2 linked regions of the Homo sapiens genome follow. The protein of the gene in region 2 interacts with the protein of the main gene of each other region in a biochemical or structural test. Each region holds a gene or a part of one and is shown on either strand. Other genes may lie near its edges.

Region 1 (16,373 bases), on a different chromosome or scaffold from region 2:
AGACAAGGAAAATAAAACCTTTTAATATGAGCAGAAAAAGGAAGATAACATCCATAAAAACTACTAGAAGAAAAAATGAGAATCAATTACAGCTGATGAAAATTCTCAACCACAGGCAGAAGAAAACTACCAATATCTAGTATGAATTAAATAGGCCTTTGCAGAAATAAAAATTAACGTGAAATTAGAAATTTAAATCTCAAAACAAAAATGGACCAAAGGGGGGGAAAAAACAGAGGAAGCTGAGAAAAGTTGAAGTAACTCAGCAAAGAAATTGAAAAAGATGAATTAATTTAAGCTACAAGGTGACCAAGTGGAAATATAATGAAGGGCATTGCAAAAAAGGTAGGGAAGCAGCCAAGAACAGAACAGTTACGAAGGGTTAGAAAGTATGACACACACACGTGCTCCCTTGTGGTATAGTTGCACAATGAAATCCCGTACATCAGTGAGACCAATCTACAAACCCAACAATTCGGGTGACTCACGTCATGTGGAGAAGCTGGGCTCCAGCCTCTGCACATGGATCCCATGAAGGTGGCTGTTTGGTGTTAACAACAAACTTATGTGGGTCCATATAAAAATAAAGCCACTTAGACGTGTGTAGGTATGCATATGTATACACACAAATTTTATATATATATATATATATATATATATATATATATATATATATATATATATATATAATTTATTTATTTATTTTTTGGAGACAGGGTCTTGCTCTGTCGCCCAGGCTGGAGTGCAGTGACGCGATCTCGGCTCACTGCAACCTCCACCTCGTAGGTTCAAACAATTCTCGTGCCTCAGCCACCCGAGTACCTGGGATTACAGGCGCCCACCACCACGCCCGGCTAATTTTTGTATTTTTAGTAGAAACGGAGTTTCACCATGTTGCCCAGGCTGGTCTCAAACTCCTGGCCTCAAGGGACCCACCCGCCTCGGCCTTCCAAAGACCTGGGATTACAGGTGTGAGCCACCGTGCCCAGCCAATATTTACCTACTGAATTATTTTAAAGGCGTACAAATACATATATGAGTACTATGAGAAATCTTTTGTTTAAAAAAAAAAATACCCTCCCAGTTTTCATGCAAATCCAGGTTATCATATATTTAGTTTACCAGGAATGCTTACAACCTGGAAATGATTTAGGTCTCAAGAGTATTCTAGCTTGAAAATATACCTATAACTTTGATTCTTCAGAAGTATAGAGAAGAGTCAGTGTTCAGGTGTTTTTTTTTGCAAAGGTGTATAACCATGGAACATGAGAATACCCAGCCCTAACATTCACTTAACACCAAGAATCCAAAAGCTGCCTGTTGGCTCTTTCAGACCTCTCAGGTAGAGGCAAAAAGACATAGTTTAGAGTACTATAAGAAACAGTACAAAAGTACAGGTCTTGCCTTGTCTAGAAGATAGATAGCCGGTTGAGCATGATCTTGTTTTGCCCTGTCTGGGTACCAGTTTCTTTCTTGCAGGAGACTACTATGTTACATGTTTAGAGTGAAAGGTGAAATGCTTGAAAACAGGTTTAGGGAGACTAAAGTGTTCTGTAGATCAGTCCTTGTTTGAACAAGCACACATTCTTGGCCTGCCGTGTCCCCTCACAGAACTTGAGATCATAACTTGTTCTTTCCTATCTATGAATCAACTGGTAATTAGTGTTCCAGTTGTCGCAAGTTTCTTTTATCCACTTGGCTTGGCTCAGCCAGAAGTTTGGCTTACCAAGAGCACCACCTAGTGTTCACTAAGCAAGATGGTAAATCTTGGTAAATTTAGCACCAGTACTGAAGAAAACAAATGGCACCTTGCTTCTGTACTACAGTCCAGAGTCATTTAAGATTCTACTCTTCATTTCGAAAGATATGTGATGATGAAATATGTAATCATTATAACTTCTAACATTCTAATGGGATACTAGGAAAAAGCCAGAGCTAATCTGCACATTGCATTCTGTTCTAATTTCAACTCCTTAGTCACTTTAATTTATAATTGTCATATGAAGAGTTTCACTTCTGTTGGTGAATATGCCGATAGTCAACAACTACAACAAATTGCTAAAAAGTCCACAGTAGCCTTAAGGACAAAAAAAAAATTGAGACGAAGAATAAAAGGAAACCATTGGATCACGATTAATGCAATACCAGGATAAAAAACTTAAAACACAACATAAAAAGAGCTGACACTGCACGCACCCAGAAAGGGTCCAGCTAGGTGCTAGTTTTGCAGGTACATCAGTTGTTTCACTTTGACGTTCGTATTTTAAAGTCCTGTAAGCTTTAAAAGTATGATCTCAGAGCTATCAGACAATGGGACAGTATGAAGTTTTGTCATAGTATTTTCCTTTCCACTTTAGAATTCCCAGTTAGGATATGCATATGCATATCCATAGTCTACAAAAAGCAAAACAAAATTTTCTTTTTTTTTTTTTTTTTTGAGACGGAGTCTAGCTCTGTCGCCAGGCTGGAGTGCAATGGCATAATCTCGGCTCACTGCAACCTCCGCCTCCTGGGTTCAAGCAATTCTCCTGCCTCAGCCTCCTGAGTAGCTAATTTTTTTATTTTTAGTAGAGATGGGGTTTCACCATGTGGGCCAGGATGGTCTCGATCTCTTGATCTCGTGATCTGCCCGCCTCGGCCTCCCAAAGTGCTGGGATTACAGGCGTGAGCCTCCATGCCCAGCTTTTTGTTGTTGTTGTTGTTGTTGTTTGAGACAGAGTCTCACTCTGTCACTCAGGTTGGAGTGCAGTGGTGCAGTCTCAGCTCACTGCAACCTCTGCCTCCTGGGTTCAAACGATTCTCCTGCCTCAGCCTCCTGAGTAACTGGGATTACAGGTGCATGCCACCACACCTGGCTAATTTTTGTATTTTTAGTAAAGACGGGGTTTCACCATGTTGGCCAGGCTGGTCTCAAACTTCCGATCTCACGTAATCCACCCACCTCAGCCTCCCAAAGTACTGGGATTACAGGCGTGAGCCACCATGCCCAGTGCAATTTTTTTTTTTTTTTGGCACAGTTTCGCTCTTTTTGCCCAGGCTGGAGTGCAATGGCACAATCTCGGCTCACTGCAACCTCCGCTACCCAGCTTCAAGCGATTCTTCTGTCTCAGCCTCCCGAGTAGCTGGAATTACAGGCACTTGCCACCACGCCCGGCTAATTTTTTGTATTTTTAGTAGAGACGGGGTTTCACCACGTTGGCCAGGATGGTCTCGATCTCTTGACCTCGTGATCCGCCCACCTCGGCCTCCCAAAGTGCTGGGATTACAGGCGTAAGCCACCACGCCCGGCTGCCCAGCACAATTTTCTAAAGTAAAAATTAAGGCTAGGTAACATATAACACTGACCTTAAAATAAACACTGTTTTCGCAGGGCATGGTGGCTCACGCCTGTAATCCCAGCACTTTGGGAGACCGAGGGCAGACAGATCACTTGAGGTTAGGAGTTTGAGACCAGTCTGGCCAACAAGGTGAAACCCCCATCTCTACTAAAAATACAAAAATTAGCCAGGTGTGGTGGCGCTCGCCTTTAATCCCAGCTACTTGGGAGGCTGAGGCAGGAGAATTGCTTGAACCCCGGAGGCGGAGGTTGCAGTGAGCCGAGATTGTGCCACTGCACTCCAGCCTGGGCCACAGAGCAAGATTCCATCTCAAAAAACAAAACAAAAACCCAAAACCCACCGTTTTATAAAAACAGAATCTAGACCCCATGTCCCCACAGCAGGGGGATAGCATTTAAGGATTGAGCCAGAATTACCAGCTCTGCTTCTAAGTTGGGAAGTTGGCTTTAAAAGGGAAAATCTAAACAGAAACAAAACTATGTCTCTATTATGAATGACATATTTGGGGGAATATCAGAATTTTTAGGGTGCAAATTTTCTCAAGTGTTTAACAGATGTAGTAAGGCTTATTTCAAATTGAGTTCCATTTTCTCAACTATTTCCATCATTCCCTAGAACCTGAAACCAACTCCTGACTTTACTACCTGTTTCTCAAAAAATTGTCTCTTCCTCTCCCTCCCTGCCACTACCCTTCCCCCTCTTATCTATGCTGTCCCCAGAAAAATCCATTGGAAACACTTCTCAACATGTCCTCGACTGGCTTATAAGCCTTTCCAAGCCCCACCTTAATTAAGAGATGCTTATTAGCAGGTATCACACAAACCAGACATAAAGTGAGGAACATGAGATCCCTGGCCTCAAACTTGTACTACTTAGCTAGATCTGTCCTATCTGCCATCTCTCCTTTGGCCATTTTGCCCCTCACATTTTACTCTATTCACTTGGAATAGCATTCAGTTCCCTCGGAACATGACTTTGTGTTCCTTCTTCCCTTTGAAAGGTTCTTCCCCACCCTTCTTTAACCAGGCTAACTCGACTCACTCTACATGATTCAACTTTGGATGTTGTCTCCTCCAAGAAACATCCCCCGAAGTCCTGGGCAGAGCTAATTTTTCTTCCTACAGTTTACCCACAGCACCCAGCAAAAACCCTTGTCATAGCACTTAGCAAACTCTAAGGAGATTAATGTGCATTTGTCTTACTCCCCAACTATGCTGTAAAGCTCCTTGAGGACATGGACCATCTCAGCTACTTCACAGCCCCAGAACCTTGTGTGGTTTTGGCTCAGGAAGCATTTAATTACACATAATTTGTTACATTCATTTAGAGAAATGATCCTCTATGAAAATATAACTATATATTGAACATAATATACATTTTAATACCTATTTATAAGTATTTATTAAAATGTTTTAATGCTTTAAGGAATATCAAAATTTGTGAACAGCCAACCAGTCTAAAACGAAAAGGGCTGCTAACAGTGTTATGAATGGTGAACAACTAAAACTCTCATACATTGCTGGTAGGAGTGTAAACTGGCAGAATTTACTAAAGCTAAACAGAAATATACCCCGTGACTCAGCAATTCCATTCCTGTATATATACCCAACAGAAAAGATAAGAATGTTCTTAGCAGCATTATGCTTAACAGCCCCAAACTGGAAATAATTCAAATGTCCATTAACATTAGAATGGATGAATAAATTCTAGTATATTCATACAAATGCAAGAGCAATGAAAATGAACTCCTGCTATACATAGGAACAAAGATACTACATTATAAAATTAAAAAATAATCTGCGACGATGGGGTGAAAACAGTGGGGACCTCTGGAGGTGGTGAGGGTCATGGGTATCAACTGGGAACAGACACCTATAGGAAGCCTTCTGTGGCAATGGAAGTGTTCTCTAACTTGATCCGGGTGGTAGTTACACAGGTGAACACTGTAAAAGTTTACCCAGCTGTGCACTTAAGATTTGTGCACCTGTATTACAACAAAGTGAAGGAAAATTGCAACAAGAAAAAAGAAAACTTGTGAACAACTGTGTTAGGGCTATGCCAACAGCATGTACAGCCACAAGACAAAAAGCAAACTGATAAAAGTCTCTTTGTCCTTTCCCTATAACATGGAAAATATTTTTTTTAAAAAAGATTACTTAAAATGCACAAATGGTATTCCTTTTATTATAATGTTTTAAACTTGGCTTAAAGTTCAAAATACTATTTCCAGATAACTTTCCACTGTTACATCAACTAGGCAACTTTGTTATGTTTATGTTATATGTATCAGTTACTTATCAGCACAGAATTTTAACCACTCTGCTAAATTTTGAGAAAACAGCTAAACTCAATATAAAATTTGGCCTACAGAATTATAGTGGCTATTTGTTACTAAAAATATTCCAAAAGAAATTTACTTATTTTACTATATTCCATATTCTTTAACTTAAAATCTGCTGCCACTGTTTAGTAAAAGTGGGACAAATAAAATTCTTTAAAATATAGAAAATACAGTTCCTGTTAAGATTTTGCAAACAAAAAAATTAATAAATAATACAATTTGAGTACTCTAAAACAATATACTTTGTAGTCTAGATTGTGGTTTTGGTCAGTATGTCTGACACTATGAAGATTTACATCAGTTCAGGGAATGAGTTCTAATACTATTAATAAATAGTCAATATAACCAAACACCTGACAGGATTCCCCATATGAATATTTTTAGGAAAGTATACAAATAAAAAGATTAACAGGTTTTTAAAATCCTTAAGAGCAAGAAAGAACAAAAGTATCTAAAACTTATACACGACAGGCAGAACCTGGGTTACAGTATACCTAAGGCAAGAGTGAATGTAGCACCCTGAGACACAAAACATCTTAAAATTACAATCTTATATGCGTATATATAAAATAGGACACTTTCTATTGGTTATGTGAACTAGATTATAACCTACAAATCTTAGTATTAACCAGAACTTCCTGACTGGCTGACATAGCACATTAGTGAGATAATACAGGTGGTACTTGAGACTTTGAAACCTTTTTCAAAGACTTTCTTCGCTTTTGACTTTGATGCTGTCACCTTCAAGGCACCAGTCCAAGTGCTCATTAATCTGAGACTCCAGAACTTCATTCTGACAAACTGGGCAATTAACCATTTTGCTCTGACTGGATGAACTGCTGGAATTCTGAGCTGTGGTTGTACTATACTTTGGATCATTACCACTGCTTTTTATTTGCTCTTTCTTGATAAAAAAATTGTCAAAAACAGTCTTATCTTCTAGCCTAGGTCGTTTATTTGGGAATGTATCTTCAGACCCACTCACATCCTGGGATGGCATCACAGATGCTGATTCCGTTACTTTTGAAGAATTTCTTAGGGATATCTTAGAAGATGAAACCCTTCTCTGAGAACTAGAAGAGACTGAGTTTTTAGGGATGTTGCCAACTGTTACACTTATCCTTGGAGATCCATTCACACCTCTGAAAGCCTTTTGGTTGGCAAATGATACTCTAGGAAAGTAGTTGCTTAGAACATTTTGGTGACTGTTACTAACAGCAGGGGAGACCAGATGAGAATTTTTACTTGAACCATTCTGTTCAAATTTCACCTTGATTTTAGAATTAGGTCTTACAGCATTTGCTGAATGGTTTTGATTTAAAAGATCTTGGGTTTTATTAATGGCATGTGAAGTGATCAGTTTCCCAGGTGAAGGTAAATTGCTTGTTTCTCCTAGAACATATCCTTTCCCACTAAAAGGGATTACTAGCTGGGCCTCACCTCTGTTGGGTTTATCTGCCAAAAAAGCAAAGAAGATTGTTATGTAAGTGCCTCAACTCAAAAGAAATACAGTAACAAACATTAAACTAATGTACAGTTTTCTCAAAATGAAGAACTAGTATTTTATTCCATCTTACATCCATACAATCCTATTAATGGGAGGAGGGCAATCTTCAGAATTCAGGAGTTCTGATATTGAGAGAATATAAAGGATAAAAAAAAATTCTCTCATATTTAAATAAAGAATCTTATCATGCCAAAGACCAACAACAAGGCAACATTTACCTTGAAAATTGCTTAGTGTCCTTTATGTGTAATTCCAGGAGGGAAAATCTGCTGCCTCATTCTTATCTTTCCTTCTACTCACGAAAATGAAGATACGGTCTTTCCATATCAATTCATCTATAGCTCTTTCACTCAATAATTAAAGATTTGGGAAATATAACCTATGTTCTTGGGTCAACAACTTCCCAAGGGAAGAAGCATCTTCAGTAACTCTGAACTTCACAGGAAAAGGGTAAATCTTGAAGATGAAGTACTGGCAAATATATGTCATATCCTTTTCCCATTCTTTGAATGAACATACATACATCAATAGAGTCACTTGGATAGAATCCAGCTGATAGGAAGGGGTGTAGTTAGGACGTATATTCCGGGCATTGTTACTTGAATTATTGTTTTTATTTTGACAATCTTTTTGCCTTCTGTTTCCTAATAACTCAGTGAGTCAAGATAGGGAAAGGAACTTTACCTCAAATATTATCAGAGATTGAATTTTGTTTCTTTGAATAAAAAGAAACTGAAAAAAGTTAATAAAAATAAAAATATCCATGGAAACTATTCCTACTTTTACTTACTTCTGTACAGAGCAAAGTCTGTTTTCCTACCATCATTTCATGGACAGTGGGATTTTTTCCTTAAGTCTACACTTGAAGACTTCTACACCAGAAACGATCCTTAAGTTTATCTTAATACCAGTTCTCTGAAGGACAGTATTGTCTTTACATCATAGCTATGGTCACATAAAAATCAGAAGAATATACACGAAGGTACCTTTATTCTCTGCGGCCAATACTGGTTCCTTTCCTAGTTTTGCCTTTCCTTTGCCTTTTTTTGAGTAATTCTCTGGTTCCTTGATTTTTATGTAAGTGCCTCCACAGGTTTTCTGGTGCTCAGCCCACCAATAGTCATGAGCAGAGGGTTCCCTGTTAGTAGCTCGTTTGACATAGCCGTAATACGGTGGCCTGTGCTGGCACGGCCCATTGCAGCGCCACCAGTGTCGCCGATACTCATCCACCTCATCGTGAAAAGTATGGTATACCTGAGTGGAGACAGAATTTTTAGTATTCAATAAGCAAGTTAACAACTGCAAGAAAACAATTTACATAAGCAGTCTTTTTTTTTTTTTTTTTTTTTTTTAATTTTTGAAACTTTCCCAGAGCTTTCTGAAAAGTTCTATTTTAGGAGAGAAAGCAACTATATTTAGTTTCTGTTCAAAAGTTGATTTTAATGGGAAACAGCAGCAGTTAATACTTCATAAACTGTGTAAAGATAGATGCACATGGGATTAGAGGACAAAAAAATCTTTTAAAAACAAAACCACAGAAAATCTTCATGAACACTAAAAGTTTCAGAAATCAAATTTGTAAATGATCAAAAATTAGGATAAAGATAAGATTTTATGTAATACCATACTAAAATAAGAATCATTCCCACTGCTAAATTGAAGTTTTCCCTATAAGTAAAAATAGCAAAGGGTTCTAAAGGACTACATTACTCCCTATAAATGCCTGACTGACGCTAACAACACAAGTATCTTACCCAGTGAAGCTTCTGCTAAGCTCACTCTCCACATTCTCCAAGTTCTGTGCTTATGTCTCTGTAATAAGCCTTATGAGGTACCATTTTATCTGTTTATAAATATTTCTATTACCAGACTGAAAAGTTCTCCAGGATCTGAATGTTTTAATTTTTTGTGTCCCTAGTGGCTAATATAGTGCTTTTGGCACCAAGAAGGTGCTCAGTCAGAAAAGCATCATTCATTGAGTCAAATAAAATTCTCTGAAGTGTGCTTTTCAGGCCTTAAGTAGGATGCCTTCTTTTTCACCCTCTAGACAAAAATCCTATTTGGAACCCAAGCAGAAAACAGGTAAGGGAAAAGACCTGACTGAAAAGAGGGTCAGCCCTCCCAGCATGGTGGCACTGAAGACTATAGAGCACCATTTGAAATGACTCCTAAATGACTATGGGCACCTTATTCTTCTGCCTTCTCAGTGGAACTCTCTGTGTAAGAGTGAGAAGCATCTGTATGTAAGATTTTGGTGTTTTACCAAAGACATTTAGCTTTCTAATAAATTCCCCTTGTGGGAAAGAATGCTAAGCTTTCTATAACTCTATAGATAGTTTTAAACTCACTATCGCTCCATCCTAAGCAAAAAATTTCTACTTGGTAAGCATGCAAAGAATGCACATTATATTAAATGCAGAAGGGACTGAAGGACATAGGTTTTAAGGCAAAGAAGCACGGGAAACCACGCACTCTATTATGTTCAGAACTCTTAATTCATTACCCAAAAAGAGAGACAAATGGATCTGTTTTGTTTGTTTGTTCTGTGACATGGACTTGCTCTGTTTGCCCAGGCTGGAGTGAGGTGGCATGAACCTGGCTCACTGCAACCTCCGCCTCCCAGGCTCAAGTGATCCTTCCACCTCTGCCTCTCGAGTAGCCGCGAATACAGGCGTGAGCTACCACGATTAGCTAATTTTTGAATTTTTTTTGTGGAAACAAGGTCTCACTAAATTGCCCAGGCTGATCTCAAACACCTGGGCTCAAGTTACCCTCCCACTTCGGCCTCCCAAAGTGCTGGGATTACAGGCGTGAGCCACCACACCCAGCCTGGATCTGTTCTGCTTCCAATTCCTGTAACTCCTAACGCTTGGGAATGTGACTTTTAACAATGTAGTCACTAAAATAAAATTACTCTACAATGTAGATACCCTGCAGAGTTCCTTATAACAGGATGTAACCTGTAAAAGCAAGGAGTGTTCACTCCTTACAACCTCTCCTAAATAAAAACACACAGATATCTAAGATAAAAGAACAGATACTCTTCCAGCTGAACAATGGGACGTATACAAGGGCTTTGCTTAAAGTATAAGTTCTGGTTAAGAAACTTAATGTATTTTATACAAGCAAGTCTATAATTCTCTTGCTAACCCGGATTTTATGTCTGATTTTTTTAAAAACTGCAAGACACTTTCCTAATGTTGAAGTAACTGTGTCTAATAATGAAATGAAGTCTTTAGAAAATTAAAACTGATAGCTAGAAAATAGTAATACATGGAGAGGCCAGGCATGGTAGCTCATGTCTATAATCCCACCACTTTGGGAGGCTGAGATGGGAGGATCACTTGAACCCATGAGTTCAAGACCAGCCTGGGCAACATGGTGAGACCCTGTCTCTAAAAAAAAAAATTTTTTTTTAAATTAGCTTGACATGGTGGCACACATCTGTAGCCCCAGCTACTCAGGAGGCTGAGGTGGGAGGATCACTTAAGCCCAGGAGGTTGAATCTGCAGTGGGCTATGAATGCACCACTGCATCCAGCCTGGGCAACAGAGCAAGACCCTATCTTAAATAAATAAATAAACAAAACATGGCGGTTGAGCACTGTTCATTTTCTATCACAGTGGATTTTGTTGCCTTTTAAAGGAAGGAAATACCCAAACATAAGAAAGAATTTAATCTATCCTATTAATATTCAATTCAGTACATTATACACCTTATACAGATGTACTATAAAGATGGGCAAGACCTACCCTGCGTTCAAAAGTATGAAAGTAGCATAAAAAATTGTAATAGCTTAAATATCTGCTGAGGATTCAAAAGAGGGAGAAATGAGATGCCACTGGAACGATGAAAAGCATTCGGACACAAAACAGAGCAGTGGCACGCCTCAGGGAAGCTACACCTGAGGAAAGGCAGGGAGGTCAAAAGTGCAGTTAAAGAGACAGGACACAGGCAGCAGAGTTGGAGGCAGTAAAAAAGGAACAAGGTTATTTAATAAAATGAATACAATAAAACTAATATTTAATTAGTGTCAGATTGGGCTAAAATGTTTTGATGTGCTTTCTCCTTTAATCCTTTCTCCTCACAAGGATCCAACAGATAGGTATTGTTACTACTCTCATTTGCCATGGGTATAAAATGAGGCATAGGAAAGTTAATAATTGGTGGAGCCAGGATTTGAATCCAAGCAGCCTGACGCCTCCAGCTTTTTGAACCTGAGGCTTTGCTATCTCCTACAATGCTATACAGAGATATGAATCAAAGAAGAATTCTGATGAGGGAATGACATCTGCAATGGTAGCAGGATACAGGATGGACTAAAAAAGACAATAATAAGGAAACAAAGTTAAGAGATCATGATGATTCCAGAAGTGACGTACTGCAGGCCTGAATTACCTGTGTGTAAAATGTTGACTCAGAAGAGGTCAGAGGCCTCAGGGATATCACTGGCTCTGCTGCCATTCCACCATGTAGTCCCAGACAAGCCAATTTGCTTCTCTAGGCCTCTCGTTCGCTGTGGAAAATCCTCAAAGATACTTGTTTCTACCTAGTTCTCTACTTTTAATTAAATCTCAGGAGTTATTGAATAAACAACTACTAAACATCATAAATAGATATGGCTTTCTATACCGTTATATTGGCTCCAGTCAGGCTGTTGATGCGATGCATATGTTTACAAAATTCTGGACCATGCCCTTCTCGGTCTTTGTCGTTATTAGTGACAAATAAATAGGCATGTATCATTTCATGCAGGAGGGTCTGGAACATAAAATATTCAAATTAGTTTTAGAGTCTGTATGACACTTTGGAAAATATAAATTTTCTTATTCTATCTGGTGTCTAACCTTTTCTGTATCACAGGCTTCCTTCAGAACTGATAAAACTCATTCTAGGCCGGGTGCAGTGGCTCACACCTGTAATCCCAACACTTTGGGAGGCAAAGGTGGGAGGGTCACTTGAGCCCAGGGGTTGGAGACCAACCTGGGCAACATGGCGAAACCCTGTCTCTACAAAAAAATACAAAAATTAGCCAGGTGTGGTGGTGCATGCCTGTAATCCCAGCTACACTCAGGAGGCTGAGGTGGGAGGATCCTCTGAGCCTGGGGAGGTTGACGCTGCAGTGAGCTGTGATTGTGCCACTGCACTCCAGCCTGGGGGACAGAATGAGACACTGTCTCACAAAAACAAAACAACAACAACAAAAAACCCACCTCATTCTATAAAAATTATATAAGCACTCATTCACAAAATATTGCATATGAGTTGAGCATCCCAACTCTGAAAATCCAAAATGCTCCAAAATCAGAAACTCTTGAGCAATGACATGACACTCAAAAGGAAATGCTCATTGGAGCATTGCGGATTTTCAGATTTGGGATGCTCCACCTGTAAGAATAACACAAATATTCCAAAATCCAAATAAATCTGAAATCCAAGACACTTCTAGTCCCAGGCATTTCAGAGAAGGGGTACTCAAATTTGTGTAACATCTAAAGCTCTGAAAATCACAGGTTAAGAACTCCCTGTTCTAGGAAGACCTTTTTGACTATATATCAAAATCCAGAAAAATCAATGAATTCAACTACATAAAAACTTTAAAATTCTTTTTTTTTTGAGACAGGGTCTTACTCTGTTGCCCAGGCTGGAGTGCAGTGGCTCAATCTCTCCTCACTGCAAGCTCTGCCTCCTCGGTCCAAGTGATTCTCGTGCCTCAGCCTCCTGAGTAGCTGGCACTACAGGTGTGCACCACCATGCCTGGCTAATTTTTGTATTTTAGTAGAGATGGGGTTTGGCCATATTGGCAAGGATGGTCTTAAACTCCTGACCTCAAGCAATCTGCCCGCCTCAGCCTCCCAAAGTGCTGGGATTATAGGCGTCAGCCACTGCACCCAGACAAAACTTTAAAATTCTATAGGAAAAAAACACCAAGTAAAAAGACAAACTCAGAAAAATATATGTATAACTCTTATCACAGGCTATTCCTAATATACAAGGAGCTCCTAATGTCAACAGGGAATGACAACCCAATTTCAAAATGGGCAAAGACCATGGAGTTCACAGAAGAAGTATAAATGACCCACAAACAAATGAAAAAACGCCCAACTTCCGGATCACGAGGTCAGGACATTGAGACCATCCTGCTCAACATGGTGAAACCCTGTCTCTACTAAAATACAAAAAAAAAAAAAAAAAATTTTGGCTGGGCATAGTTGCGCCCGCCTGTAGTCCGAGCAGTATACTCAGGAGGCTGAGGCAGGGGAATTGCTTGAACCTGGGAGGCAGAGGTTGCAGTGAGCCGAGAATGCACCACTGCACTCCAGCCTGATGACAGACCAAGACTCCATCTCAAAAAAAAAAAAAAAAAAAAAAAAGAAAAGAAAAGAAAAAATGCCCAACTTTATTTATAAAAAGAGAAATGCGAATTAATACTACACTAGGATGGTCAGGCGTGGTGGCTCATGTCTGTAATCCCAGCACTTTGGGAGGCTGAGGTGGGAGGATTGCTCGAGGCCAGGAGTTCAAAACCAGCCTGGTCAACATAGTGAGACCTTGTCTCTACAAAAAAATAAAAATAAAAATAAAACAATTAGCTTGTGCATCTGTAGTCCTAGCTACTCAGGAGGCGGAGATGGGAGGATCACTTGAGGCCATGAATTCAAGGTTGCAGTGAGCTATGATTACCTCCAGCCTGGACAACCCAGCAAGACCCTGTCTCAAAAAACAAAAAACCCCCACAAAAACCCAACACTACACTAGGATGTTATTTATTGCTTATCAAGATTGGTAAAACTCCTAAAGTTTGACACCATTAGTAAAGCTAAGGGAAAATAAACATTCCTATATACTGCTGGTGGGAGTGCAATTCTCCTATGGAAAATTTGGTAGCATCTAACAAAATTACAAATGCATTTGTCTTCTGAGAGAGCAATACCTAGACTAGCATGCAAGGTCATATGCACAAGGTGTATTCACTGTGACACTGCTTATAACAGCAAAAGATTAGAAATAACTCCAGTGTTTTATACATCCATATAATGGAATTCTATGCAGCCACAAAAAAGAATGAGAAGGATCTACATGAAATGGTTTGGAGAAAGCTATAGAGCGTATTAATGAAAAAGACAGGGGGCTGGGCACAGTGGCTCATGCCTGTAATCCCCGCACTTTGGGAGGCCGAGGCAGGTGGATCACCTGAGGTCAGGAGTTCAAGACCAGCCTGGCCCACATGGTAAAACCCCGTCTCTACTAAACACACAAAAATTAGCCAGGCATGGTGGCGGGCGCCTGTAATCCCAGCTACTCGGGAGGCTGAGGCAGAGGCAGGAGAATCACCTGAACCTGGGAGGCAGAGGTTGCAGTGAGCCGAGATCATGCCATTGCACTCCAGCCTGGGCAACAAAAAAAAAAGAAAGAAACAAAGAAAGAAAGAAAGAAAAGAAAAGAAAAGAAAAAGAAAAAGACAAAGTACAGAAGAATGTACATAGTATTTTGTGTAAGAAAAATTTTGTATGGTGGGGAGGAGGAATAAAAATGAATAGAAATATTTGCAAAACAGAAAAATGAAAAGAAACTAACAGCTCCTACAGCAAGTAAGGAGTTCAAGATAGAGGAGGACACTGAACAAGACATCTTTGTGTATAGCTTTCTACAGCTTTTGGGTTTTGATTCAGAAATCATGAAAACTTGAAACAAACACTAAAACCTACTGCTCATTCCACACCAAAGATGCACAAGTTTCTGTGCAAAATTAACAAAAGCATTTAAGATTGCTGGGGTTTTTGCTCTAAAAAATATAAATAATTTTTTTAAGCAAAAATCAGAAAGATCTTCAAAGACATACCTTTTTCATGATCCTCCATAATTTTTTTAAAAAACAATTTCCATCAGAAGAACTAGACTGTCATTAATGAATTTTAGTCTTATAAAATTATGCTGAACAGAAAAATGAGAGAATCAAACATTTTAACTTGGTCATTCATATATCCCTCTAAAAATTATCAACTGTATCTCTTAAAAGGAACTTTATTTATTTATCTTATTATTTCTCAGAGATGGGGTCTCACTTTTTCACCCAGACTGGAGTGCAGTGGCATGATTATATTTCACTGCAGCCTCAAATTCCTGGCATCAAGGGATCCCTCTATCTCATCCTCCTGAGCAGCTGGGATTACAGGCGCATGTCACCACACCTGGCTAATTTTTTTTCAATTTTTTGTAGAGACAAGGTCTCACCATCTTACCCAGACAGGTCAACTCCTGGGCTCAAGCAATCCATCTATCTGATTACGTGCATGAGCCACTGTACCCAGCCAGAACTTTATTTTTCAAGTAAATGCCGCTCAACGAAGAAGACTCAAATTCAAGAAAGGTACTGCAAAAGTTTCTCAATGTTCTAAATTAGAGCAATGATAAAGATCTATTCTCATAAAGGAGAAACAAATTTAGGTTCCTGATTTTTGGTTCAATTTAATTAAACATTAAAAAACATCTTGAAAATGGTACTGAACTTTTTAAATATCTATCATTTTCCATATTTAGTCTTAATTCAAGGATCTATACACAACACAGTCCCAAAATACCTCTGTTTTCCATGACTGTTCTATCGGGTTAAAATGAACTACCTCTAGTCCTAAATATGCCCCCAGTTGTCTGAACTCACTTTTGTTCACATTATTCCCATGCTTTCTGCCAAGAGTAGCCTCCTGTCCTATCTCTGCTTGTCAAAAGTACAATTCGTCCTTTAATGCTCACCTCTCCATGTTTTAATCGCAGGAGTGATGAGTTGAATGGTAAAGGGGACAGAACAAGAGCCTTAGAGTCAGGGAAACTGGAACCTAAACCCACAATCACAGCATGAGACCTGGGACAGGCTCCAAGTGGCTCCTCATCCCTAAAATGGGATATCCTCATTTTGCATGGCTGTGGTAAAGACGACGTTTAGTCCAAAGTCTGACACACAATAGGTGCTCAATAGTGAGCAGCAGGAGTGGTGATGGTAGTAACAAAATGTACAGTTATAAAGCTTTTCTTGACCTCCTCAACCAGATAAAGTCTGTTCCTTTTCTGAACCCCCTTCTCTATGATTTAGGTAACTACAGTTGTGCCTCACTTGGCAGGGATATGTTCTGAAAAATCCATTGTTAGGCAATTTTGTCATTGTGCAAACATCTTAAGAGTGTACTTA
Region 2 (16,985 bases):
TGCAAAGCAAACTCTTATTTTAAAAAACAATTCTTGTGGCTGGGTGCGGTGGCTCACACCTGTAATCCCAGCACTTTGGGAGGCCAAGGCAGGCAGATCACCTGAGGTTGAGAGTTTGAGACCAGCCTAACCAACATAGAGAAACCTCGTCTCTATTAAAAATACAAAATTAGCCGGGCACATGGTGGCGCATGCCCGTAATCCCAGTTACTCGGGAGGCTGAAGCAGGAGAATCGCTTGAACCTGGGAGACAGAGGTTGCAGTGAGCTGGGATCGTGCCATCACACTCCAGCCTGGACAACAAGAGCAAAATCCTATCTCAAAAAAAAAAAAAAAAAAAAAAAAGGAAAGAATTCCTGCCTACTTTTTGAGTCTTTAAAACATGTTTTATCTAATTTAAGCCAAACTTTTCTGTTTTTTTGGAGATAGAGTATCGCTCTGTCGCCAGGCTGGAGTGCAGTGGCGCGATCTCAGCTCACTGCCATGTCTGCCTCCTAGGTTCAAGTGATTTTCCTGCCTCAGCCTCCCAAGTAGCTGGGACTACAGGCACACGCTGGCTAATTTTTTGTATTTTAGTATTTTTGTATTTCAGTAGCGCCAGGTGTGGTGGCTCACGCCTGTAATCCCAGCTCTCAGGGAGGCAGAAGCAGGAGGATAGCTTGAGCCTGGTCTCAAACTCCTGAGCTCAGGCAATCTGCCCTCCTCGGCCTCCCAAAGTGCTAGGATTACAGGCATTAGTCACCGCGCCCAGCCTAAGCCAAATATTTTTTAATAAACAAAATATAAAATATTCTTAAATAAGAATGACAACAGGCTGGGCACAGTGGCTCATGCCTGTAATCCCAGCATGTTAGGAGGCCGAGGCAGGCGGATCACGAGGTCAGGAGTTCAAGACCAGCTGGCCAGCATGGTGAAACCCCATCTCTACTAAACATACAAGAAGTTAGCCAGGCGTGGTGGCATGTGCCTGTAGTCCCAGCTACTCGGGAGGCTGAGGCAGGAGAATTGCTTGAATTCTAAAGGCGGAGGTTGCAGTGAGCCGAGATTGCACCATTGTACTCCAGCCTGGGCAACAGAGCTGTCTCAAAAAAAAAAAAAATAATAATAATAACAACATATATGACTTCTTACAAGATACACTTCCTACACATGATTAATTATAGCTTCCCATTTTAATTCATTAATCTTCCCTCCTGATCAGTTCCACCCATAATGTTCCCCAGGATGAGTACAGTGTATTGCCCATACCGCTTTCTCTAACCCAACTTAATTATTTCACAGCATTTTCACAGTCTGAAATTATCTTGTTTAAATCAACCAGGGGAGGGACCCTGTCTGTCAGGTTTACTGTTGTATGACATAGCCTGAAATAATGCTAAAAAAAAACAGTATGAGGCCAGGCACGGTGGCTCAAGCCTGTACTCCCAGCACTTTGGGAGGCCGAGGTGGGCAGATTGCGAGGTCAGGGGTTCAAGACCAGCCTGGCCAAGATCGTGAAACCCTGTCTCTACTAAAAATACAAAAATTAGCCAGGCGTGGTGGCAGGTGCTGTAATCCCCACTATTCAGGAGGCTGAAGCAGGAGAATCGTTTGAACCTGGAAGGTGGAGGTTGCAGTGAGCTGAGTTCCGCCACTGCACTCCGGCCTAGGCAACAGAGCGAGACTCCGTCAAAAAAAAAAAAAAAAATTACTTGAGAGAAATGTTTGTGAAAATACTATAGTGAGGCCGAGCATGGTGGCTCATGCCTATAATCTCAGCACTTTGGGAGGCTGAGGCAGGAGGACTGCTTGAGTCCAGACGTTCAAGACCAGCCTGGTCAACACAGCAAGATCCCAACTCTACGAAATAAAAAAATCAGCTAGCATGGTGGCATGTACCTGTGGTCCCAGCTACTCTCAGGAGACTGAGGTGGGAGTATCCCTTAAGCCTAGGAGGTCATGGCTAAAGGAAGCCATGTTTGAACTACTGCACTCCAGCCTGGGTGATACAGTGAGACTCTATCTCAAAACAAACATAAACCATAGTGCTTGGTATTCATTCAGTATGTATTGGCATTCATTATGTGCCTGACACTGAAGACAGAATAATTGTGGCATGTTATATTTTCCAAAGATGGCTGAGACAGCATCTTCCATTCCATATGCTCTTCTACATTCTCTCATTGAGAAGTAGAGCCCACTTCTTGAATCTGGTATGACCAGTTATTCACTGCTTGACTTCTGAGGCTAGTCAGAAAAGGCAATTGGCTCTACATTGTGCTGGAACACAAGCTTTTGGAGCCCTGAGCTTCTATGTAAGAAGTCCGACTACCTGGAGACACCAGGCTGTGAGAAAGCCCAGGCCATACAGATAGACCACATGCAAGCACTCTAGTCCACTGCCCCAGCTAAAGGCCCAACAGATGGCCAGAATCAACAGCCAGACATGTGCATAAAGATGCCTAGAGATGACCAGGTTCCAGTTATTGAGACTTTCCAGCGGGGATGCCAGACATCATGGAACAGACATAAGCCATTCCCACTGTGCCCTATCCAAATTCCAAAGCAAAAGAATCTATGCGCATAATAAAATGATGTTTCCAGGCACTACATTTTGGGGTGATTTCTGACACAGCAATAGTAATCAGAACAGTGATGAACCTGACAAGTTTCCTGCCTTCATAGAGTTTATATTCTAGTGGGGAAAGACATATAATTAGCAAGAAAATGCCAAGACAATAATATGAATTATAAAATGCTGGGATAACCGTATACCCATGTGCAAAAAAATGATGCTGGACCCTTTCCTTACACCATACACAAAAAATCAACTCCAAGTGATTCCTAGAAGATATAGTCAATATTTATACATTTCAGTGATTCATTTAAAAATTAGCTTGAACTAACACCTAATCTGAAAGCTTTAGTATAGTCTTACTGTAGGAACTAAAGCATTTTTTTCTTTTTCTTTCTTTCCTCCCTTTTTTCTCTCTCCTCTCTTTCTCTTTTAGAGATAGGTTCTTGCTCTGTCACCCAGGTGTGATCATAGCTCACTGCAGCCTTGAACTCCCGGGCTCAGACAATTCTCCTGCCTCAGCCTTCTGAGTAGCTAAGACTGCAGGTGCATGCCACCACACCAGGCTCATGTTTTAAAAAAACTTTTTATAAAGATGTGGGTCTCACTATGTTGCCCAGGCTTGTCTTGAACTCCTGGGCTCAAGCAATCCTCCTACCTCAGCCTCCTCAAGTGTTGGGACTAATACAACTGAGCCACCACAGCCACCCGACTGAAGCATTTCTAATGTTAACAAGTACATGGCCAGGTGCAGTGGCTTATGCCTGCAATCCCAGCACTTTGGAGGACAAGGCAGGAGGATGGCTTCAGCCTGGGAGTTCGAGACCAGCCTGCACAACACAGCAAAACCCCGTCTCTACAAAAAATACAAAAAGTAACCAAGTGTGGTGGCATGCGCCTGTAGTTCCAGCTAGTCGGGAGGCTGAGGAGGGAGAATCACTTGAGCCTGGGAGGCTGAAGTTGCAGTGAGCCAAAATTGCGCCACTGCATTTCCATCTGGGCAACAGGGTGAAACCCTGTCTCAAAACAATAATAATAATGATGCTAACAAGCACACGATCTGTAGAAAACTTAAACATAGTGATAACCATGATTTTTTTAAACTCTAAGTGGATTACAGAATTAAATATAAGTGCAAAAACTAAAAAATCTTAGAAAAAAGCACAGGAGTAAATCTTCATAACCCTGGGTTAGGCAAAGCCTTCTTAGATATTATGTCAGAAGCACAAGCAACACATCAAAAAGAAAACACAACAAGGGTATGGAGAAAACAGAATGCTTATACATTGTTGGTGGGAATGTAAATTAATACAGCCATTATGTAAAACGGTATGGAGGTTCCTCAAAATATCAAAAATAGAGCTACTGTATGATCCAGCAGTCCCACTACGGATATACATCCAAAGGAAATGAAATCAGTATGTCAGAGATATTTGCACTCACATGTTTATTGCAGCACTATTTACAACAGCCAAGATATGGAATCAATAAATGTCCATTAATGGATAAAGGAAATATAGTGTATATACACAATGGAATACTATTCAGCCATAAAAATGAATAAAATCCTATCATTTGCAACAAAATGGATGAACCTGGAAGAGACTATGTTAACTGAAATAAGCCAGACACAGACAAATACTACATGATCTCACTCATTTGTGGAATCTGTAAAAGGTGATCTCACGGAAGTGGAAAGCAGAATTTTCTTTCCATAGGCTGAAGTGGTTAGGGGAGGGGGAATGGGGAGATGTGGGTCTAAAGGATACATAATTACAGTTAGACAGGAATAAGTTCAAGAGCTCTACTGTATAGCATGGTGACTACAGTTAGTGATGATATATTCTTGAAAAATGAAAAGATGGTAGACATTAAATGTTTTCACCACCAAAATAACTGTGTGATGTAATACATTTATTAGCTAGATTTAACTACTCCACAGTGTATATATACTTCAAAACATAATGTTGTACACAATAAATACATACAACTTTATTTCTCAATTTAAAAAATCTTGGCTTGGCACGATGGCTCACATCTGTAATCCCAGCACTTTAGAAGGCCGAGGCGGGCAGATCACTTGAGGTCAGGAGTTCGAGACCAGCCTGGCCAGCATGGTGAAACCCCAACTCTACTAAAAATACAATAAAATTAGCCGGGTATGGTGGCACATGCCTGTAGTCCCAGCTACCTCGGAGGTTGAGGCAGTAGAATAGCTTGAACCAGGGAGGCGGAGGTTGCAGTGAGCCGAGATCACGCCGTTGGACTCCAGCCTGGGCGACAGAGCAAGGCTTCTGCCTCAAAAAAAAAAAAAAGAAAAAAAAAAATCTTCTTAGGCCGGGCACAGTGGCTTGTATCTGTAATCCCAGCATTTTGGGAGGCCAAGGTGGGAGGATCACTTGAGGTCAGGAGTTTGAGACCAGCCTGGGCAACATAGCAAGATCTCATCTCTACTAAAAAAAAAAAAAAAATAAGATTAAAAAAAATTTAATCATTTTAAAATTTAAACTTAAAAAAGCATAAGCAACAAAAGGAAAAATAAATAAATTGGACTTCATCAGCAATAAAAACTTCCATGGGCCAGGCATGGTGGCTTATGTCTGTAATCCCAGCACTTTGGGAGGCCAAGGCAGGGGCTTGAGCCTGGGAATTCAAGACCAGCCTGGGACCAGCATGGGAAACATGGCGGGACTCCATCTCTACAAAAAATTTAAAAATTAGCTGAGTGTGGTGGCACGCACCTGTAGTCCCGGCTACTCGGGAGGCTGAGGTGGGAAAATCACCTGAGCCCAGGGAAGTCAAGGCTGCAGTGGGCTGAGATCACACCACTGCACTCCAGCTTGGGCAACAGAGTGACATCCTGTCTCAAACAACAACAACAACAAAAAATGTCTGTGCTTCAAAGCACACCATCAAGAAAGTACAAAGACAATCCACAGAATGGGAGAAAATTTTTGCAAATAATTTTTCAATCAGGGTCTTGTATTCAGAATATATAAAGAACTCTTAAAACTCAACAACAACCAAAAATACCCAATGACAAAAATGGGCATAATTTTGAATATCTATTTCTCCAAAGATATGGCCAAGCAGCATATGAAAAGATATTCAGCAACATTAGTCATTAGGAAAATGCCAATCAACATAATTTATGAGATACCACTTCACATCCACTAGGATGGTTAAAATAAGACATAATAAAAAGTTTTTGCCAGGTGTGGTGATGTACACCTGTAGAGCTAGTTGGTAGGCTGAGGCGGGAGGATCCTTGAGTTCAAATCCAGCCTGGGCAACATAGTGAAACCCCATCTCAAAAAAAAAAAAAAAAAAAAAAAAGAGTTCATCCATGAGAAGTCTGAGGGAAAAAACAGTGTTAGTGTTAACCAGAATGTGGAGAAACTGAAATACTCATATACTGTTAGGACTGTAAGAAGCGCAGCCATTTTGAAAAATAGTTTGTCAGTTCCTCAAAATGTTAAATACAGAATTATCTCATGACCCAGCAATTCCAATCCTAGTTTGGCTGTGTCCCCACCCAAATCTCAACTTGAATTGTAATAATCCCCACATGTCAAAGACGGACCAGGTGGAGATAACTGAATTATGGGGGCAGTTCCCCCATGCTCTTCTCATGATAGTGAGTTCTCACGAAATCTGACGGTTTTACAAGGGGCTTCCCCCTTCGCTCGACACTCATTCTCTCTCCTGCCACCCTGTGAAGAGATGCCTTCCGCCAAGTCTCCTGAGGCCTCCCCAGCCATGCGGAACTGTGAGTCAATTAAACCTCGTCTTTATAAATTCAATCTCAGGTGTGTCTTCATAGCAGCATGAGAATGGACTAACACAAATACCCAAGATAACTGAAAATATATGTTCATATAAACACTTATAGATGAATGTTTTATACATGAATGTTCATAACAGCATCATTCATAGCAGTCAAAATATGGAAATAACCCAAATGTCCATTAATGATGAATAAACAAAACTTGTTGTATCCATATTACAGACTGAATCATGTCTCCAAAAAGGTAATGTTAAAGCCCTAACCCCCAATACCTTAAAATGTGACCTTATTTAGAAATAGAATTATAGCACATGTAATTAGTTAAGACAAGGTCATATTGGAGTAGGGTGGATTCGTAATTCAGTATGACTGGTGTTCATATAAGATGGACGTGCAAAGATACAGATATACAGGGAGAATGCCATGACAATGAAGGCAGAGATTGGAATTACGCAGCTACAAGCCAAGAAATACCAATGATTGCCAGCAAACCAAATTAGCTCTAATCTATGTAGGCTATCTGTAGAGTTAAAAGCAAAGCATAACAAAACAAAAAAAAATTCCAATATGATTAAAATTGGTAGTAAATTGGACTTACTGTTTGGCCTGGTTAACATGAACCCCTAGTGTATAGCTCAGCCATTTGTATGTCACCTGTAACAAGAAAAAATTTTTCAAATGTTTTATTAGATGACTCCAGAGTGCACATCAGTCCCGAAGGTCTGTTGCTAAAGATTCCTATTCTTAGATGATTATGCCTTACAAATTACAATAAATGCCACTGCAGTTTTCCCAAGAACTATCTATCTGGGTAGGCAGGACCTATTTATCTTAAAAATGCTAAGAAGTTTGTTTCATGAACTAATGAAAAGTAATCTAAAAAGACAAGCTGAACATACCTAACAGAAAAAACTCTCATTTTCCTCACATTCCTTGTTTTACTCAGGCCCTTTCCTCATGATGTTTTTTTTGGGGGCCACCAGCCAAAGCCATCCTAAAACTCATTCAGAAGCTAGATGACTTTGAAGTGTGATGTCTCAGAAACTTCTAAAGAAAGTTGCACCCATGCAAACATTAAAGGGCACAGGTGGTGCAGGGGTCAGGAAACGAAAAAAGTGGGTAAATATTTTTATAAGAGATTAGATTGGGAACTACCAGCATCAAGCCTTCATCCCTCCTAGACCCAGGATGCCTGCACTCTCTTCTCTCAAAGTCTCTTCCAATTCCAAATGTCAAGCTTCCAATAGTTAGAAGACTTGCACAGGTTAGGCAAAGGCAGTGTGATGTAGAAGAAAGCATTAGTAAGAGGACAGACCTAGGTTGAAAAACTGCCTATCCCTTACCAAACGCAAATAAACAAGTTATTTGGCCCCTCAGCTTCAATTTCCTCATCTCGGGATACCACCACCGACCTGGGATGGGGTGCGGGGAGGTCACTGTAAAGATTAAAGTGCCTTGGCACACAGCAGGCACTCAATCATCACGGTTTGCAAAGTGCACTCACATCCATCAATTCGCTCGATCTTTTCCTCACCCGTGTGAAGCGGATCAAACCTCTATCAATGCTTAAATTTCCAGGAAGAGGAAACAGTATCTGGAGGTTACGCAACTTGTAACTTAACACAGTTAAGACACGATTTCCTCAACTGTAAACTTAAAACTTTAAACGCCAACCACCTTAAAAGAAAGGTGTAGGGACGCCTTAGAACTCTCAGCCAACGGCCCTCCCTCCGCGCCCGGTCTCCGCGGCTCCAGCCCCAGGCTCTGTTCCCAGCACGCCCACCCAAGGGACGCGGACTTCCGTGTGTGCTGGAGGACCTTCCCGACGAGTCCTCGCTCGCTCTGGGGCACAGAGCTCGCCCAGGTCCCCTCGTGGGGACCTGTCTCCCCTGGTCCCCACGAAGCCACAAGCAGACAGAGGGTCAAGGCTCCCGCCGCCCTAGCCGGGCCCAGGACCCCGGTCGCACGCCCGCGTTCCCCAGTAGTAGCTGCTCACGATCTTGTTTTGGTCCGTGACGAACTCGTCTATATTTTCCAGATAAAGCTGGTCCGCCATGGTGCGGCAGCGCTGGGACCCGCCTCTAACCCCTCTCTCAATCACAGCCACAGCTCCCGCCGGCGGGAAACGTCTTTGCTCCCTCCCAGGTCCCGGGTCGTTTCCCCGGCAACGGAGGCGACGCACTACGGCGGCCCTCGAAGGGTCAAACTAGTCAGGGAGACGGCGCAGACGGAGGTAGGCAGAGCTAGTAGAAAACACCGAAGTGCGGGGCCTCCTGGCTGGTTTTTTCCTATACCTACGTACCTATGATAAAGTTTAATTTATAAATTAGGCACAGTAAGAGATTAACAAAAATAACTAACGATAAAATAGAACAATTATTATTATACTGTAATAAACATTAGTGAATATGGTCTCTCAACAGATGTCATTGGGTATAATATTTCCCTACCGAGGTTGGCTGCGCGTGATGAAACCCGGGAAAGCCAGGATAAAGGGGAGACTATTGAAAACAAGTAATTTTAGTAGTGCTGCCAACTGGGGAAAAGTACTGCCTGTTATAATCCCTCAGAGTTGAGAAATTAGGGAAGGTTTTTCCAGAGGGGTTGAGGAGAGGCTGAGTGTTTCGGATAGAAGCAGGAGAATTTGCTGGAAAAGAGTTCATTATCTCTGGATTGTTAGGAGAAGAGGCGGATGAGAGAGACTTGGGAGAAACCAAATCGTTGTGCCTAGGAGACTGTGAAGAGGCGCTTGAGCTGTGTTCTCAGGAAAACTTGGAGAAAAGTTATCAGGTTGGGGAATTTCAACTCAAATTTCTCCTAGTATCACCCCCGCAAAAATCTTTAATAATTGACTTCAGCATAAGCCGGTGCAGTTCAGTATCGCAGGTGTAGTGCGTAAGAGAGTGGGCTCTAGAGTCAGACTTACTGGGTTTGAATCCTGGTTTTGCTGTTTGTTGTGTAAACTTAGGTAATTCTTTAGCCACTAGGAGCCTATTTCCTTATCTATAAAATGGGAATAATAACAGTACCTACTTCAAAGGCTTGTCGCGACATGCATTCATTCAAAGCATAGCAAAATCCTGAGAAAGGCCAGATACTATTCTGAGTGTTGAGGTGCTGGGGCTGCAGCTATGAGCAATAATAAACCGAGCCTGTTCACATGTAACTTACATTCTGAGATTTTTAAGTGAAAGATAGTGGTGGTTTAAAATAGGGTAGCAGACCGGGCGCGGTGGCTAACGCCTGTAATCCCAGCACTTTGGGAGGCCTAGGGGGATGAATCACCTGAGGTCAGGAGTTCGAGGCCTGCCAGGCCCACATGGTGAAACCCTGTCTCTACTAAAAATATAAAAATTAGCCGGGCGTGGTGGCACGTGCCTATAGTCCCAGTTACTCCCAGGGCTGAGGCATGAGAATGTCTTGAATCCAGGAGGTGGAGGTTGCAGTGAGCCGAGATCATGCCACTGCACTTCAGCTTGGGAAACAGAGAGAGACTCCGTCTAAAAATAAAATAAAATGGCTCGGCGCAGTGGCTCACACCTGTAATCCCACACTTTGGGAGGCCGAGGCAGGCAGATCACCTGAGGTCAGGAGTTCGAGACCAGCCTGGCAAACATGGCGAAACCCCGTCTCTACTAAAAATACAAAAATTAACCAGGTGTGGTGGTACACGCCTGTAATCCCAGCTACTCGGGAGGCTGAGGCAGCAGAATCACTTGAACCTGGGAGACCGAGGTTGCGGTGAGCTGAGATGGTGCCACTGCACTCCAGCCTGGGAAACAGAGTGAGACCCCCCTCAAAATAAATAAATAAAATAAAATAGGGTAGCAGTGCCAGGCACAGTAGCTCACACCTATAATCCCAGCACTTTGGGAGGCCAAGGCAAGTGGATCACTTGAGCCCCAGGAGTTCGAGACCAGCCTGAGCAACATACTGAAACTCCGTCCCTACTAAAAAAAAAAAAAAAAAAAGCCATGGTGGCACGAGCCTGTGGTCTGTGGTCTGTGGTCCCAGTTCTGAAGTGGGAGGATGGATTGAGCCCAGGAGGTAGAGGTTGCAGTGAGCACTTGATCATGCCACTGCATACAGCCTGGGTGACAGAGTGAGACCCTGTCTCAAAAAATAATAATTTTTTTTTTTTTTGAGACAGAGTTTTGCTCTTGTTCCCCAGGTTGGAGTGCAATGGCGCGATCTCGGCTCACTGTAACCTCTGCCTCCCGGGTTCAAGTGATTCTCCTGCCTCTGCCTCCCAAGTTGCTGGGATTACTGGCATGCGCCACCACACCCGGCTAATTTTGTTGTAGTTCTAGTAGAGAGGGGGTTTCGCCATGTTGGCCAGGCTGGTCTCGAACTCCTGACCTCAGGTGATCCACCTGCCTTGGCCTCCCAAAGTGCTGGGATTACAGGCGTAAGCCACAACGCCAAACCAATACATTTTTTAAAATAGAGTAGTGGTAGTGGAAATTGAGAGAACTGAGTGACTTGAGTTTTGTTTTAGAGTCGGCAAAACCTGCTGATGAATTACACGAGTGGAGTGTGGAAAAAACAGGAATCAAGGAAAATACCTAGATATGGAACATAAATCTTTAGGTAAATGGTGATGCCCTTGACTGAGACGTGAAAGACTGGAAGCAGATGAGAAAATCAAATAATTCTATTTGGCCAGTTACAAATGAGATAATATACATAAAACTCTCATGCAGTACCTGCACACAATAAAATCTATGATCGTTGACTATTACGTTATTATATACCAGACCTACTATACCAGGTACTTTAAGAGCAATATTTCATTTAGTCCTCATAGCAATGCTGCAAATGTATTATATTGTCCATATTTTATTTTATTATTTATTTATTTATTTTGAGACGGAGTTTTGCTCCTGTTGCCCAGGCTGGAGTGCAATGGCGCAATCTCTGCTCACTGCAACCTCTGCCTCCCGGGTTCAAGCGATTCTCCTGCCTCAGCTTCTCGAGTAGCTGGGATTACAGGCATGCACCACCATGCCCAGCTAATTTTGTATTTTTAGTAGAGACAGGGTTTCTCCATGTTGGTCAGGCTGGCCTCGAACTCCCGACCTCAGGCAATCCGCCCACCTCAGCCTCCCAAAGTGCTGGGATTATAGGTGTGAGCCACCGTGCCCAGCCTGTTTATTTATTTTGTTTTATTTTTTGAGATGGAGTCTTGATCTGTCGCCCAGGGTGGAGTGCAGTGGCATGATCTCCACTCACTGCAACCTCTGCCTCCCAGGTTCATGCGATTCTCATGCCTCCACCTCCTGAGTAGCTGGGATCACAGGTATGCACCACCACACCCAACTGTATTTTTAGTAGAGAGGGGGTTTCGCCTTGTTGGTCAGGCTGGTCTTAAATTTCTGACCTCAAGTGATCCGCCCACTTCGGCCTCCCAAACTGCTGGGATTACAGGTGTGACCCACTGTGCCTGGCCATTGTCCATATTTTAGAGACTGGATTGTTGCGGCTCAGAGAGAAATAGATTTTTCCAGGATTATTAGGTGGTTGCTGTGGGATCAGAACTCAGGCCTCTTGTCAGTGCTCCACAGGAGTGGGAAGTAAGTCAAGATAATTAGCTAGGGAAGAGTCTTGATACTTATCCCTATGCCAAATGGAGCAGATGACAATGAGGTGGCTACATTGTCTGGGCTATATACCCTGGGGTTGGTAGTCTGGCACCAGGAAAATTTAGGACACTAACACACACGAAGAGTTTAGGAGCGGAGGTTTAATAGGCAGAAGAGAAAGAGAAACAGTTCTCTTTATATATAGAGAGAGGGGTCTCCTAGTGATCATGGTGGCAGATGCGCTGGACTTTATAGTCCAGCTTGAGGAGGCGGTGTCTGATTTATGTAGGGCTCACAGATTGTTTCGATCAGGTGTGACATTTACATAGCCCAGGGGTGAAGGCTGGTATCCCCACCCTGATCTTATGATGCAAATGAACTCTCCTTGGCTGGCACCATCTTGTCTGCTCCTTACTGTACATGTGGCTGGCAGAGAAGGGATGATGGAGTCGCCATCTTGAACATGTCTAGTCCCTAGTTCCTGCCCACATTCACCCGTGCAAGCTCCCAGCTTGCTTGTCTATGTCTGAAGCTCAACTTTACAGGCTGGTCTTTGTTAGAAAATGATTTGGGGCTGCTTTTCATGAAAAAGAAAAGCCTTACCATGGACTTCTATACCCTTACTATCTGCCTAAGTGATTTCTTCTTAACTCCTATATCAACCACACTGTTTAGAGTGCCCAGCCCAACCCAATGGACCTGCCAATATTAGGGTTGAATGACTTAGCTGGATTAGTGGTTACCCTTGGGAGGGTAGAAACTGGAAGGGAGTATGAGGAGGCTTTTGAGATGAAGGTAATATTCTTGATCTTGGTGCTGGTTGCATGGTGTGTTGAGTTTGTGAAAATGATTTGAGGTATATACTTTTGATATGTATAGTTTTCTATATGGATGTTTGCGTGAATCAAAAGTTTAAGGAAATTATTTGAGGAATCTTAACTACAGTGTCAAGTCTTTTCAAACTAGGAAAATAGAAAATAGGTAGAGGTATTAGAAAGAATGGGTTTAATCTTAACCTTGGACAATAGAAAGGAGATTCTGGGAAGAAGGGATAATGGGCAAAAGTGGTGCAAAGCAAGGCAGTAATTGGATTATCAAATCAAGATAAATAATGAAAGGTATCTCCAAGTCTGGGTTGGGATAATGGGACTAGAAAGGAATGACTACAGCTCTGCACAGGATTGGGTAGGCTGGGGGTTGGGTTAAGGGCAGGAGAGCTGGAGGGGGAAGAGAAGAGATAGCTTTTCTGTTTCTGTGTCTAAGGCCTATCCAGTTTGATTTTTCCTTTTCCAATTTGGAGCGTAATTGAATGAAAAGCATATGGGCTTTGGAAACAATGTTTCTTGTGAGAAGCAAGAAAGCAAACAAACAAACAAACAAACATCTGGGCCTGAATTCCAGCTTTACCACTTACTAGCAGTGTGGCTTTAGGCAAATCATTTAACTTCTTTTATCATCTTAAAAGAAGAGAGATAATAATATCCAGCGATGTACAGATAAATGTGTAATAACCAACTTGCTAAATAAAAAAAGCCCTGATTTGAAGTGGTTGCACTTCTGTGGTATAAATACTCCACATAGCAGAATTCAAGCTACAGATATTGATGCCATAGAATGCAGAGTTAGGAAGAGATGCACAGTATCACACCATTATTTCCATCATACAGACACAATAAACATAAATAACCTCAAGAGCATAGATAGGCCAGGCACAGTGACTCACATCTGTAATCTCAGTACTTTGGGAGGCAAAGACAGGAGCATCCCTTGATCCCAGGAGTTCGAGTCCAGCTTAGGAAACATAGTGAGACCTGTCTCTCTATAAAAGAAAAACACAAATGAAAAAGAGCATAGATAGTAGTAAAACACTTAGGAAGTGATGAAATTTGAATATTGTCTTGTGTTTAATATAATTTGATTGTACATTTATATAATTTAATTTTCAGTAATGGCTCTGTTTAACTGACTTGCAAACTTTCTGAAAATTTAACATTCAGCTCTCATAAGCAAGTGCATCAACCAGCTCTCGTGCATCACTGTAAATAATTTATCTACCTTGCATGATTGAGAGGGTTGAAAGTAACATGTTCTGTGCCTTGGAGATAATTAAGTGCTCCATAAATGGCAACTATTATTATATAACAAACACTTATATACCACTGACTACATGACAGGCTCCATTCCAAGTGCTTTACAAATATTAACCCATCTAATCTCTGTAACAACCCTAGAAAGTAAAGCATGTTATTATTCCCTTTATTCAGAAAAGTAAACTCTGTCACAGAGAGGTTAAATAACTTGCCCAAGGTCACAAAGCAACACAGCTAGAAGTATAACCCAGGCAATCTGGCTACAGCATCCATGATCTTAAACACTGTGTTTTGCCATCTCATTATTAGTTTACAACTGTACATATAAAACCAATAATAAGTACAGTGAACTCTAACACATTTTATTGCAGAATTTTGGGATTCCTGTGCACATCAGTCAAGTGAGAATTACTTTCAGTAGAAACCAAGTAACAAATTGGATATGTTGAGTATCACATCATATGACAACATAGAGTCCAGGCAAATAAAAGTTAATCTTGAAAGTTTTTGAGTCAGGTGTTGGAGGTAAGGGAAGTTTGAGGGGAGTATAGACCTTTGATTAGATTTAGAAGGGAACTACAGCTAGCAAATGCCAGTGAAGAAACCTAGGACTGTGTCCAGGAGATTAGTATTTTATCTAGATAATGCCTGAAGGCTTCATTTTAGGGTCAAAAGTAAACCAGAAAAGAGAACTCCTCTGTACTTTTACTGCCATGAATCCCAGATGAAGAGTCTTTTAGGTTGTATACATTGCTTGGATGATAATAACTATCATTTATTGAGCACATACCGTGTTTTGAGTACCTTGCCTAGAGTGGCTTATTTAATCCTCAGCCAATCCTGTTAGATTCAATTATCCCTTCACCAAAAAAGGACCCAAATTTGAGATCAATTTTATGTTGTTAATGGGAAGAGTTAGTAGAAAACAATTCCATGTAAGTTCTAAGACAAGGTTTGCTTAAACAAATAACTAAGTAGCACTTTACAACTAGCCTCATCCTAATATAATAATAATAATGACAACACCACCACCAGTGTCTAATAGCTTCTTAATAAATGTTTACTGATTTAGTTTTTTTGTTTGTTTGTTTGGTTGGTTGGTGTTTTGAGACAGAGTCTCACTCTCTTGCCCAGGCTGGAGTGCAGTGGCATGATCTTGGCTAGCTGCAACCTCCGCCTCCTGGGCTCAGGCAGTCCTCCTGCCTCGGCCTCCTGAGTAGCTGGGATTACAGGCACCTGCCACCATGCCTGGCTAATTTTTATATTTTTAGTAGAGATGGGGTTTCACCATGTTGTCCAGGCTGGTCTTGAACTCCTGACCTCAGGTGATCCATCTGCCTCGGCCTCCAAAGTGCTGGGATTACAGGCGTGAGCCACGGCGCCTGTCCTGACTTACGTGTAATTACACTAAAAGCAGTGAGATTTAAGGGGAAAAATATAGGACTGAGAAAAAAGGAGACCTCAGAGTGTTCACTATGAATTACCATTCACTGCATATGTAGGCACGATGCTAGGCCTTTTACTTGAATATTTTCATTTAATCTTTGGAACGACCAATAAAGTAAGTATTATTACTTACCTACTATTATCTGTATTTTATAGATGTCACTTAGCTTAAATTATTATCCCTATTGTACAGATGAAGAAACTGGAGCTCAGAGAAATTAAGTAACTTATCCCAAACCACATAGGTAGTAAGTGGTAAAGATGTGTTTCCAGCCCAGGTATGCCCAAAGCCCATGTTCTCAACACCGTGGTTATCTTTACACGATAGCATTTGGCTGATTTTTGTTCTCTTCTTTATATCTATTTTTTCTTATATGTGTTTGGAAATTTTAACAAGAGTCCATATCATTTTTATTTATTTATTTTTTTGAGATGGAGTTTCACTCTTGTTGCCCAGGCTGGAATGCAATGGCACGATCTCGGCTTACCGCAACCTCCGCCTCCCGGGTTCAAGTGATTCTCCTGCCTCAGCCTCCTGAGTAGCTGGGATTACAGGCATGTGCCACTACACCCAGCTAATTTTGTATTTTTAGTAGAGACAGGGTTTCTCCATGTTGGTCAGGCTGGTCTCGAACTCCCGACCTCAGGCAATCCGCCCACCTCAGCCTCCCAAAGTGCTGGGATTATAGGCGTGAGCCATCGCGCCTGGCCAAGAGTCTGTATCATTTTTATAATCAGAAAAGAATGAACATATTTTCATTTTGAAAAAAATGGAGCATTTAGCAATGTCAAATTAACTCTTTTTATTCCAGTTCTCTGTAATGTTTCCCTATTTAAAATGTAAAAGGCGGCTGAGCGAGGTGGCTCATGCCTATAATCCCAGCACTTTGGGAGGCCGAGGTGGGCGGATCGCCTGAGGTCGGGAGTTTGAGACCAGCCTGACCAACATGGAGAAACCCTGTCTCTACTAAAAATACAAAAATTAGCTGGGTGTGGTGGCAGGCGCCTATAATCCCAGCTACTCGGGAAGCTGAGGCAGGAGAATCGCTTGAACCCGGGAGGCGGAGGCTGCAGTGAGCCTAAATCCTGCCATTGCACTCCCCTCTGGGCAACAGAGTAAGACTCCATTTCAAAAAAAATAAAATGTAAAAGGCAATCTCCAGAAAGGACTAGCACCACCATTCCTACTTACAACATCTTAAATGTCACTTTAAAAAAAAAAAAAAACAACAACTCACTCCTTATTCCTTAAGGATGAGGCTTACCATATGTGCCTCATGTTGAGAACAAAAGCAGTTCTCCAGAAGCCAGAATAATCAATCAGCCAAAGCATTTTCTAGCGAAAAGAGAGGTCAGACAAAACTGTTGGGGATGTTGGTGTCAGGTGCCACCAGCAGTGGGAACCATAGGACCGAACCACCTCAGCCTCCATGCCTCAAAAAAGAACCTAAGATAGGTGTCAGAAGTAGAAGGCTGACCCTCCTCTGTCTTCTTCGTCATCCCCGCTTCATCCCAGAAATAATTGC

What was found.
Region 1: the proteins of POLD3 (region 2) and SPRTN form a complex in vitro, tested with the Homo sapiens proteins (one study listed by BioGRID).

What each region holds. Positions count from the first base shown.
Region 1 is NC_000001.11:231,343,371-231,359,743, reverse strand, and holds the end of SPRTN (DNA-dependent metalloprotease SPRTN), read right to left. Parts: intron 11,948-16,373; coding exon 11,819-11,947; intron 8,441-11,818; coding exon 8,173-8,440; coding exon of another isoform or gene 8,138-8,172; exon of another isoform or gene 7,135-8,137; coding exon 6,383-7,134; 3' UTR 4,721-6,382; downstream 1-4,720. UniProt on the Homo sapiens protein: DNA-dependent metalloendopeptidase that mediates the proteolytic cleavage of covalent DNA-protein cross-links (DPCs) during DNA synthesis, thereby playing a key role in maintaining genomic integrity.
Region 2 is NC_000011.10:74,584,071-74,601,055, reverse strand, and holds the start of POLD3 (DNA polymerase delta subunit 3), read right to left. Parts: upstream 8,475-16,985; 5' UTR 8,398-8,474; coding exon 8,338-8,397; exon of another isoform or gene 7,852-8,337; coding exon of another isoform or gene 7,846-7,851; intron 6,996-7,845; coding exon 6,940-6,995; intron 1-6,939. UniProt on the Homo sapiens protein: Accessory component of both the DNA polymerase delta complex and the DNA polymerase zeta complex.